2 linked regions of the Homo sapiens genome follow. The protein of the gene in region 1 interacts with the protein of each later gene in a biochemical or structural test. Each region holds a gene or a part of one and is shown on either strand. Other genes may lie near its edges. The genes, in order: CTCFL and PRMT7.

Evidence for each region.
Region 2: the proteins of CTCFL (region 1) and PRMT7 form a complex in vitro, tested with the Homo sapiens proteins (one study listed by BioGRID).

What each region holds. Positions count from the first base shown.
Region 1 is NC_000020.11:57,500,987-57,508,276, forward strand, and holds part of CTCFL (transcriptional repressor CTCFL), read right to left. Parts: intron 6,891-7,290; coding exon of another isoform or gene 6,879-6,890; exon of another isoform or gene 6,858-6,878; coding exon of another isoform or gene 6,810-6,857; exon of another isoform or gene 6,807-6,809; coding exon of another isoform or gene 6,597-6,806; exon of another isoform or gene 6,020-6,596; intron 2,616-6,019; coding exon 2,450-2,615; intron 1-2,449. UniProt on the Homo sapiens protein: Testis-specific DNA binding protein responsible for insulator function, nuclear architecture and transcriptional control, which probably acts by recruiting epigenetic chromatin modifiers.
Region 2 is NC_000016.10:68,355,916-68,359,271, reverse strand, and holds the end of PRMT7 (protein arginine N-methyltransferase 7), read right to left. Parts: intron 3,243-3,356; exon of another isoform or gene 3,132-3,242; coding exon of another isoform or gene 3,062-3,131; exon of another isoform or gene 3,057-3,061; intron 2,572-3,056; coding exon 2,475-2,571; intron 2,219-2,474; coding exon 2,048-2,218; 3' UTR 1,502-2,047; coding exon of another isoform or gene 1,498-1,501; 3' UTR 1,479-1,497; coding exon of another isoform or gene 1,394-1,478; 3' UTR 688-1,393; downstream 1-687. UniProt on the Homo sapiens protein: Arginine methyltransferase that can both catalyze the formation of omega-N monomethylarginine (MMA) and symmetrical dimethylarginine (sDMA), with a preference for the formation of MMA.

The sequences.
Region 1 (7,290 bases):
ACTCAGAGCCGAGGTGGCCAGTAGCCCGGCCTTGGGTTTCTACAATGTGCGCTGATGAACTGTGGGTCAAATTTCACCGGTCTGTCTTCTCCAGTAAAGGACTGTGCTTACTATTCACTCGTTTATTCAACAAGTGGTGACTTAACGAGCAATGCTGAGGCCAGGCCTAGTGCCAGGAGCTGGGGACGGACCCGATGGGCCAGGCCCGCCTTGGAGGAGCCTGCGGTGCCCTGCATGTGGGAATCCGGCACTTATTAAAGAACCAAATAAGCGTGAAGTGTGCAGGAGGGGCAGCGCAGGACCAGGTGGGTGGTCGCGCGAAGTGCTTTTATTTTTCTGAAGATACGGAGCATGTTTAAGGCTGATAGGAAAGAGCAGGCCTGCAGGGGTGAGTTGGCTGAGGAGGGTGGGTGGGGGACATAAAGCTGCTCATCTGGGGGGTGGGTTCCAGACTCAGAGTCAGAAGGGGCCTTAGATGGGAGGGGTGGCTCCTCCAGCCCCTTCCTCCATTAAAAAATGTGAAAAATGATATTTTACAACATCATTGGTATAAAGGAATCCAAATGGAATGCAGGCTGCATTCATTGCTTGATACCCATCAGTGAGACACTGGTTTTTCTTCTGATCTGCCCCTATGAGCACTGTGGACAGCCCTGTGCCCTGCGGGGCCGGATGGAGAAGCCCCAGGAGCTGGCGGAGGATGGCGGGAACTCCAGCTGGGAGTGGGATGACACAGGAATGCCGGGGCAGCGGGCAGCAGAGCCCATCTGCTGGTGCAGAGTCAGTGAGGCCTCCACCCAGAGGGAGGGAGGCAGGGGCTGGGAGTTTGGGATGAAGGTGCTCACTGGAAATCAGTGGAAAAGTTATTGGTGCTGAGGTTCAGAATGAGGGCTCTGGGCACCTGGGCAGGCTCGTCCCCACCCTGTGATGGAGCTCTCTCCCTGTCAGATGGATGACAGTGCCCCCTGCAGAGGCCTGTGGTCATGATAAGAAGGGACTTGCATGAGCTCAGTGGTAATTGCCGATGCCTGGAGGAGAAAGGAGGGTGCTCCGCGCATGGGCAGTGTGCACAATTCTGGAGAGTTCCAACTGAGCTGAGTGATGGGGCACTGCCTGGGACCCCTCAGTCTCACCAGTTCCCTGCCAGGCAGGGCCTGGCTGTGTGACGCAGGCATGGGAAAGGCAGGCCGGGGGCACACCCAGGCTTAGGGCTTTGCCAGATGGTGAGACGCAGAGAAAGAGTGGGGGAGTGCTGCCTGTGGACAGAGCGACTGGAACCAGGGACCCAGAACCGACTCCACACAGAGGGAGTGGGAAGGACTGCAGGATGCCCGCTTCTACCCGAGTTTCAGATACATGATGAACATTTTTTTTAGTATAAGTATATCCCAAATAGTGCATGGGACACATTTAAACAATGATTCACTGTGTATCTGAAATTCAGATTGAGCTGGGCATCCTCTATCTGATCTGGTAACTCTTGAGGAAAGGCAGGTGGAGGGCGACCGTCATCTGTGGGAACATTCGCAATGCAGGGACTGAGTCTGGAATGAGAACGTGGGGTATTTGCTTGTGCCGTAAAAGTCTGGACAGTTTCCAGTCATCTACGGTTCTAAGGTTCTCAGAGGAAAGGAATGGAGAAGGTGAACAGTGCAGGTGTTCACCTGTGCAGGTGTCAGGTTGGCCCCTCTTACAGCAGAGCCATTCACAGGACACACAGGACAGGGCCCAGCTTCAGCCAACCTGGGAACTCACTTCAGCTCCCAGAGGCCAGAGGACGAAGACTGTGATGGCTGTGGGGGCTGAATGGTGACCCCTAAAGGGATATGTCCATATCCTAAGCCCCATAGCTGACCTCCTTTTTTCAAAAGAAGTTCTAAATCCTAAATGATAAATGTCTTTGTAAGAGGCAGAAGAGAAGGCCCACACACAGAAGAGAGGAGAGAGCTAGGAAAAGACAGAGGCAGAGACTGGAGGATGTGGCCACAAACTGAGGAATGGTGGAGCCACCAGAGTTGCAAGAGGCTAGGAGGGACCCTCCCCTAGGTCCCCCGAGGGAGGGCGGCCCTGCCCACACCTGGATTGAGGATTTCTGGCCTCTAGAGCTATTTGAAAATCAATTTCTGTTGTCCCAAGCCACTCAGCTTGTGGTCATCTATTGCAACAGCCCAGGACAGTCCCTGTAGCTGCAGGCGACAGTCCAATGCGATGGAAGAGGGCTCCTCGGGGTGGGGGCCACACATGGACCTGCGTGGGGCTCTCACACTGACTTTCTCACGCTATGCTCACTGCCATTCTGAGAGATCTGGCACAAGCCACCTTGCAGGACCGACTGGTGGACAAATAGGGGCTCTGGACACATCCCCTGGACAGTAACACTCGGCACCCAGGATAGTCACAACCAGAAAATCACTGAGGCGGTAAAAACAAATCTGCGTAAAATCAGTACCGTCTCCGTTCGCGGCTTCCTTCCATCCCTTCGCAGCTTCCTTCTGACCCTTTGTGGCTTCCTTCAGGATGGTCTGCTTCCTCTTTCTTGTTCTTCTTCCCTTTCCTGAAGCAGCCGACTTTGCTTCCCCTGATCCACACTTCTCCGAATGTCTGTGCAGGTTAATCTGTCGGAGAATTGACACAGAACACACAAGGCGAGTGAGATGGGGCAGGGACCCCTCTCAGGGGCCTGTGGGGACCCCACGCATGGAAAGAAAGAAAAATCCTGAGTTCTTTCGAGGGCAATTCCACACACCTCGCTAGCCCTAAGAAGTAAATAAGCAACTTGATAAGCAAGAAGGTAATAGGAGGCCAGGCACTGTGACTCACGTATGTAATCCCAGTACTTTAGGAGGCCCAGGAGGGAGGCTGAGGTGGGAGGATCGCTTTAGCCCCGGAGGTCGAGGCTGCAGTGAGCTGACTGTACCACTGCACTCCAGCCTGAGTGACAGAAAAAAAAAAAAAAGAAAGAAAAGAAAAGGTGATAGAAACCTAAAACAATAGCCAAGGAAGCTACACTCAGGATGTTTGGGGCACTCGCCCAGGCTGGAGTGCAGTGGCGCCATCTCGGCTCACTGCAAGCTCCGCCTCCTGGGTTCACGTCATTCTCCTGCCTCAGCCTCCCAAGTAGCTGGGACTACAGGCACCCGTCACCACGCCCGGCTGATTTTTTATATTTTTAGTAGAGACGGGGTTTCACCGTGTTAGCCAGGATGGTCTCGATCTCCTGATATTGTGATCTGCCCACCTTGGCCTCCCAGAGTGCTGGGATTACAGGCATGAGCCACTGCACCCGCCCCCCGTCTCCTTTTTTTTTTTTGAGATGGGAGTCTCGCTCTGTCACCCAGGCTGGAGTGCAGTGGCATGGTGTCAGCTCACTGCAACCTCTACTTCCCAGGTTCAAGCGATTCTCCTGCCTTAGCCTCCCAAGTAGGTGGGACTACAGGCGAGTGCCACCACACCCAGCTAATTTTTGTTATTTTTAGTAGAGACAGTGTTCCACCATGCTGGCCAGGCTGGACTCAAAACTCCTGACCTCAAGTGATCCACCTGCCTTGGCCTCCCAAAGTGCTGAGATTACAGGCGTGAGCCACCGCACTGGCCAAGATAACATCCTAACATCCGTCCCTGAGTTGTTTTTTAGAAACCTGGCTCTTTACCAAACAGGTCCACCGGCAGGGAGACCTAAGATAAGGAGGACCTGGGGGCTGAAATCTGACCACTGCTAAATTTGTTCTAATTTTGTTCTTAATTTCCTCCTGAGAGGCCTAGAGGAGGTCATGCCTCGTGAACCAGAGCTAATACTCTTTTCTCAAAATTTTAAACAAAACTTCTCTTCCTTAACCAATTGCAAACCAGTCTCTGAATCTACCTACAACCTGTAAGCCCTTGCTGCAAGATATCCTGCCCTTTTAGGGCAAGGTATCCTCCATGCGCTGATTTATAATTTTGTCTGTAGCTTCTGCTTCCTTGGCACCCTGCAAATAAACTCCTGCTGCAAACTGTGGTGTGGATATCTGGTCTTACTGCACCAGGCAAGCAGACCCCAGTTTGGTTCTATAACAAGAGTCGGCTTCCCCAAAGGCACTGAAAAATGCACAGTTAAAGAGATGGCCTTTGGGAAAACTGTGGGTAGCATGCACCTTTGATAATCTTGTGCAAAAATGATGACTTTTTAAAGGTGACCCTTTCTGTTGTGCTTAGCTCTAGCCAAAAGCTAGCTTGCTTTAAGTATTTTTTTTTAATAATAGAAATCAATGAGAAGACAAAATTTATTTATTTATTTATTTATTTTTTGAGACGGAGTCTTGCTCTTTCGTCTAGGCTGGAGTGCAGTGGCACGATCTCTGCTCACTGCAAGCTCCGCCTCCCGGGTTCATGCCATTCTCCTGCCTCAGCCTCCCGAGTAGCTGGGACTACAGGCATGTGCCACCACGCCCGGCTAATTTTTTGTATTTTTCAGTAGAGATGGGGTTTCACCATGTTAGCCAGGATGGTCTCGATCTCCTGACCTCGTGATCCGCCCGCCTCGGCCTCCCAAAATGCTGGGATTACAGGCGTGAGCCACCGCGCCCGGCCTTAAAATTTATTTTTCTAGAATGTTTCTACTCTCTAAAGTGAAGACTGATGTTGAACCAAAAATTCAATACATCAGTCAATTTCATAACCATCAACTACATACCATAAAGATTTTACTTTTCTGTTAGCTACTCTCTTGAAGCTACTGAGCAGAGGTCATGGGTGGCAGTTATGAAACTGTATACAACATTCAGGAATAAAAGCCAAAGACTTCCCCTAGTCAAGCCTACTCGTGACATAGTCTCATCTAACAAACACTCAGGATAATCTTAAGTCAGAAAATTTTCACTTTTTGAAAAGGTCCTAGGCAAAAGTAAAAAAACTGGCAACAGGTGTTGAAATTTGCAAATTATGCGAAACATCCCGCCTGATTCCCATTTTGACTTTCCCACTGTGCTTAACAGGACTGTCTGCGTTTATGATGGAAGAAGGAAGAATTTACACATAATGGGGGTGATGGAACAGGTTGTTTAAACTTCTTCCATTTTATGCTTAGACACTGGGGTTGGCAAACGACAACCAGTGGGTCAAATCTGGCTGCCAACTGTTTGTGAAAGCAAGTTTTACTGGAACACAGCCATGTCTATTCATTTACACACTGCATCCACAGCTGCTTCCATGACACAAGGGCAGACTCAAGAAGTCGTGGCAGAAACTGATTTGCGTTGCCCTGGTGATTAATGACGCTACGCTTACTGGCCACCTGTATGTCTTCTTTGGAGAAAGGTCTATTTAGATACTTTAACTGTTTTGTTTTGTTTTTTTCCTGAGACAGTCTCGCTCTGTTGCCCAGGCTGGACTGTAGTGGCACAGTCTCAGCTCACTGCAACCTCCACCTCCTGGGTTCAAGCAATTCTCCTGCCTCAGCCTCCTGAGCAGCTAGGATTACAGGCATGTGCCACCATGCCCAGCTAATTTTTGTATTTGTAGTAGAGATGGGGTTTCATCATTTTGGCCAGGCTGGTCTTGAACTGCTGACCTTGTGATCCACCTGCCTCTGCCTCCCAAAGTGCTGGGATTACAGGTGTGAACCACCGCGCCTGGCCTAGATACTTTACCTGTTTTTCATTGGGTATCTGTCTATTTACTGAGTTATAAGAGTTCTTTTTATATTTTAGACACAAGTCCAAATATGCTTTCTTGAATCGGAATTTCAAAAATTTTATGTTCTGAGGGACTGCATGAGGCAGACTTGTTCTTTTCTCTACATTTTTATTTCTTGCACCAAAGAGCAGTTTTTTTCTCTTTAGAATTCTACTCGTTAATTTTAACTCTTCACAATTTTTGCATGAGCAATGGTGTTTTGGGAGCACTGCCACAGCTTTTATTTGAAATTTTAAACTAATAGGGTTGACATTCCAGAACTATCCCACTGTGCTACTCAGAAAAACACAACTACACTACTGTTTTAAGAAGAAATATTTTTAAAAAAATAGTCAACTTCAGGAAATTCAACTTTTATAAAACTTTTATAAAGTTAGGCTGAAGCCTACATGGTCCAAGGATCTAGCTAGCCATGTGCAGTGGTTTTTAAATGTCCTGAAATTCTTTGATGCTGTTCCTTTCAAAAGAAACTTCATTCCCCACTCGAGTGTGGGTGGGACTTCATGGTTCATTTCTTGTGACTAGAATGTGCCACTTTTTTTTTTTTTTTGAGACAGAGTCTTGCTCTGTCGCCCAGGCTGGAGGCCAGTGGCACAATCTCAGCTCACTGCAACCTCTGTCTCCTGGGTTCAAGTGATCCTCCCGTCCCAACCACCCAAGTAGCTGGGATTACAAGCGTGCACTACCACGCCTAGCTATTTTCTTTTTTTTTTTTTAAAGTAGAGACAGGGTTTCACCATGTTGGCCAGGCTGGTCTTGAGCTCCTGGCCTCAAGTTATCCACCTGCCTTGGCCTCCCGAAGTACTGGGATTACAGGTGTGAGCCCCCACAGCTGGCTGTTGTGCCGCTTTTAGGACTAGACTGCAAAAGGCACCATGGCTTCCTACTTGCACTCTCTCACTTGCTCTGAGTCAGGAGGACACTCAAGCAGCCCTGCAGAGAGGTCCCTGTAGCAAGGAACTGAGGCCGGTGCCAGCAGTTGTGTGGCGGAGCTGTCCTGGAAGTGGATCCTCTGGCCCCAGTCCAGCCTTCGGATGATGCAGCCCTGGCGGACATCCTGACTGCAGCCTCAGGAGTGGCCCTGAGCCAGGACCACCCAGTTCAGCCACTTCCGAGTTCCCAACCCAGAGAATCTGTCAGGTGATAAATGTTTGTGGTTTTAAGCCACTCCATTTTGAGGTAATCTGTCATACAGAAATAGATAACTAATACAACACCTAAAAGAATAAAACCATAAATGTATTGCTTAGTCCAGTACCAACAGCACTATTCTTTTTTTTTTAATTAAAAAAGTTATTTTAGAGACAGGGTCTCACTCTGTCTTTGAGGCCAGAGTGCAGTGGTGCGATCGTGACTCACTGTAGCCTCCAACTCCTGGGCTCAAGTGGTCCTCCTGTCTCAGCCTCCTGAGCAGCTAGGCCTACAGGGGTGCACCACCACAACCAGCTAATTTTTTTGGAGGGATGGGGGTCTCCCTGTGTTGCCCAGGCTGATCTCAAACTCCTGGCCTCAAGTAATCCTCCCACCTTGGCCTCTCAAGTAGCTGGGATTATAGACACCAATAACATTATTCTAGGGACATCTGAAAAAATGTGTGAAAACTGCATTCTCTCTGTC
Region 2 (3,356 bases), on another chromosome or scaffold:
CCCAACTTCCAGAAGCAGCTGGTACTCTGCTCACACAAGCGACTGGGCCGGCCGGCCCTGGACCCCTAGACCCCGAGCCGCCTGCCGACTGCCTGCACAGGGAGAGCAGTTGAGGCCCGGGCAGGGCCCCCACACCAGACCCCAACATAGCTTCCCCACCCAGGCACCCCCTCCCGGGGCAGCAGGCGTGGGAGTCAGGGCTGCATGCTCCTCCCCTCCCACCTCACAGGCGGCCTTAGGCAAGTCATTTTCTGTCATCACAAGGTCGCCTCTGCCTAGTCAGGTCCTGGGGTCCAGAGTAAGGATGTGCGGCCCCCAGGCCCCCGCACACCTCCCTCAGCACCAAGACCGGGACCCCCCCACCCACGTGTCTCATTGTGGCTGCCTATGGACTCCCGGGCCTTGTGTGCAGGCCAGGCCCTTCCACTGATTTTTTAAAGTGAACCATTGCTGGATCTCAGATTCTGTGGCATCTAAGGCCTAGCAGGGGTGGGCACACGGGTCACCCGAGGCCCATACCAAGACTCTGTTCCTGCCCTAGGCCCAGTCTCAAAGGAAGCCACAAGGCGCGGGGGCCACTGAGGAAGGAAATGTTCATTTTCATTTGTCCAAAACCACCTTAAGTTTTAAGTATATTAATCTTGATGCTTTTTAACTATTGCTTTTTAACTTGCTGAGATTTAGAAATACTGTTATAAAAACTTTTTTAATTTCTGTATTTTTTTCTGTATTGTATCTTCATGGGACATTAGGGGTTTTCTATGGTAAGCACACCTATGGTTTTGGTAAAAACATTATCAAATATATATCCAGACGGTTCTTCCCTAGAAGAAAAACAAGTCTTTACACCTGATAAAATATTTTGCGAAGAGAGGTGTTCTTTTTCCTTACTGGTGCTGAAAGGAAGGATGGATAACGAGGAGAAAATAAAACTGTGAGGCTCAAGGCTGGTGTTCTCCACTTATTTCAGCGACAAGCTGGGGCCAGGCCTCAGGGGCACGCCTGGGGGCAGGGGAGGGAGTTCCTGCCCCCAACTGCAGGACAGGCACTGCCCAAGTCTGCCCTGAATCCGAGGACACCGGAACTCTGCTCATACAGGCGGCTCGGCTGGCCTGGCACAAGCCTCACCTTCTAAGCTGCGAGCCAGAGGCCACTGGGTTCTCTCACGTGGTGTCTGCTGTTACCTCTGAGAGCTGGGACATAACCAAAGGGGGGTTAGTGTGTGAGAGAAGCAAGGCCACGGCACCTACTGACCTTCCTGGTGAAGCGGCGCTGGGCAGGGGCTGCTCCCTGCCATACCCCACCTGCAGGAGGGGCTTTCCAATCTGAGGGAGGTGCAGGGAACAGGGCTGCCTCCCAGCTCCCCTGACAGCCACTTTCCTGGGCCTGCATCTCAGGAACTGCTCTGGGACAGCTGCCTTGTGTCCAGTCTCAGGTCCTGGCAGGCCACCAGCTGGTGCAGCACTGAGGCCAGACACCTATGGATGTGGCTTGAAGTTACCTGTCAGGTGAAAGGGCCAGAACCCAGGCCTCTCAGCCCGGGCCCAGCCAGGGTCTTCAAGCCCCAGAGACCCAGCCACAACTCAGCATCTCCACCCTCCTAGCAGAAGCCAGAAGAGCAGGGACCCGGAGATCCTCGAGAGTGAGACAGACAGGACAGGCTCCCGCCACGGGGACTGCTCGCCAAGGGCGGCGTGGACAACCCCACCGGCCAGCCCCACAAGCTCCCTGTGCTTCCACTCCCTTCCCAGCTGGGGAGAGATGTCTCTGTGTTGGAGCATTCTCAGCACCTCAGAAGCACAAGCAGGGGGGTCTTCCCAGCCCCTCCAGGGCTCCAAATTCAGTCACCCTCTCATGCTTCCTGCCACAGCTGGAGCCAGAGGCCAGCAGTGCAAAGATGCAACAAGATGCAACACGGCGCAGTCTTTCCCATCCCTGAGGCCGAGCAGCTCCCAGAGAGGAGAGGAGGGCCTTCAGCCTTCCCCGCTAGAAAGCCATGAGCCACTCAGAACCCCAGCCCTCAGGCCACTTTATTGCTCAAGAGTGGTCAGTCTGGGGTATCTGCATGCCTGAACTCCATGATGATGTCGCCTGTGTCGGGGTGAAACTCCACTGCATAGCTGACAGTCCGTGGGCCACCCAGCAGTGCTCTGGGATCTGGGGCAGGGCTGAAGAAGTAGACGGCCTGCTTGCAGTGGGGGTTCCAGCAGCAGCCCCCCTGTAGGAAGAAGAGCAGGAAGATGGTGAGGGCTCCCTGGCACCTGAGCCTCCTTCCTAGCCAGCCTCCAGCCCAGGCAGCTCGCAGCAGAGAGAAGCTGCTCAGGGGCCAGATGGCCCAGGACCACTGAGGGGTCATCATCTGGCCCGAAGAACTTGTGACAGAAACACCCAGAGCATGGGGGCAGGGAGGCCTCCCCAGGCGGCGCCTGCTCTCAGGGTCTGCACGCACACTGGGCCCGGTGCGCAGGCACTACCTCGGGGTCTGCAGGCTCCAGGAGGCCAGTGCTGAGCGTGCACTCCGGGGTCAGGTGGTACTCCATCCATAGCACCGCTGCGTGGCTCTGCCCGGGCCTGTCAAGGAGAGGGGGGCCCAGCAGAAGTAGTCACACAAGAGGCAGCGGGGGAACAGCTGCAGCTCCTGCGGCTTTCCAGAAACCTGTGGTCTTCCCCACTTCCTTCCTGCCCTGCCGGGAGTTCCTAGTGCTGCAGTTACATAAACGTTCCTCAGAAAAACCCCAGCCAGAAGAGCCGCAGCCAAGCCCCCACCTGAGCCAACCCGAGCCCTGCAGCCGGGCCACACATGGGGCAGGGCCGGTGTGGCTGCAGGGTCTGGGGGAGCTTGAGGCACAGCCTGGCACTGAAGGCCGGAAGGCCCCTCTGATGCCCCAGACAGCAACCCTGGGAGCTCAGGTGATGGCGCCCGCCCTGCCTGGCTGCCTGCCCCGAGTTGGGAGGTGCTTCCAGGAGAAGTCACTCCTCGGGCGAGGGTGGGGTGAGGGCCGGAGCAGGACAGGGCTGCCCGTCCCTGGACGCAAGCAGCACTTGCTGACCCTGACCTGCTTCAGCTCCCAGGAGGGTTCAGGAAAATGGTGCATCGGTGACCACAGGAAGTAAGCTCCCATCTTCCTGAGCTGTGATCCAACAAGGGAGCCTCAGCTGTAGAGGGGGAGCAGAGCCCTTCCTGGCTCCTCCACCAGTGGCACACACAGGACCGTGGGAACCACCACACGCGCAGGGCCACTCTGACAGGGAAGGGCAAGGTTGTGGGGAGGACGAATACCCCCTCCACGTGTCAGCGTCTCCCAGGCCAGCTGTGCTCACCACGGGGGTGAGAACTCCAAGGGCAAGCAGCAGCC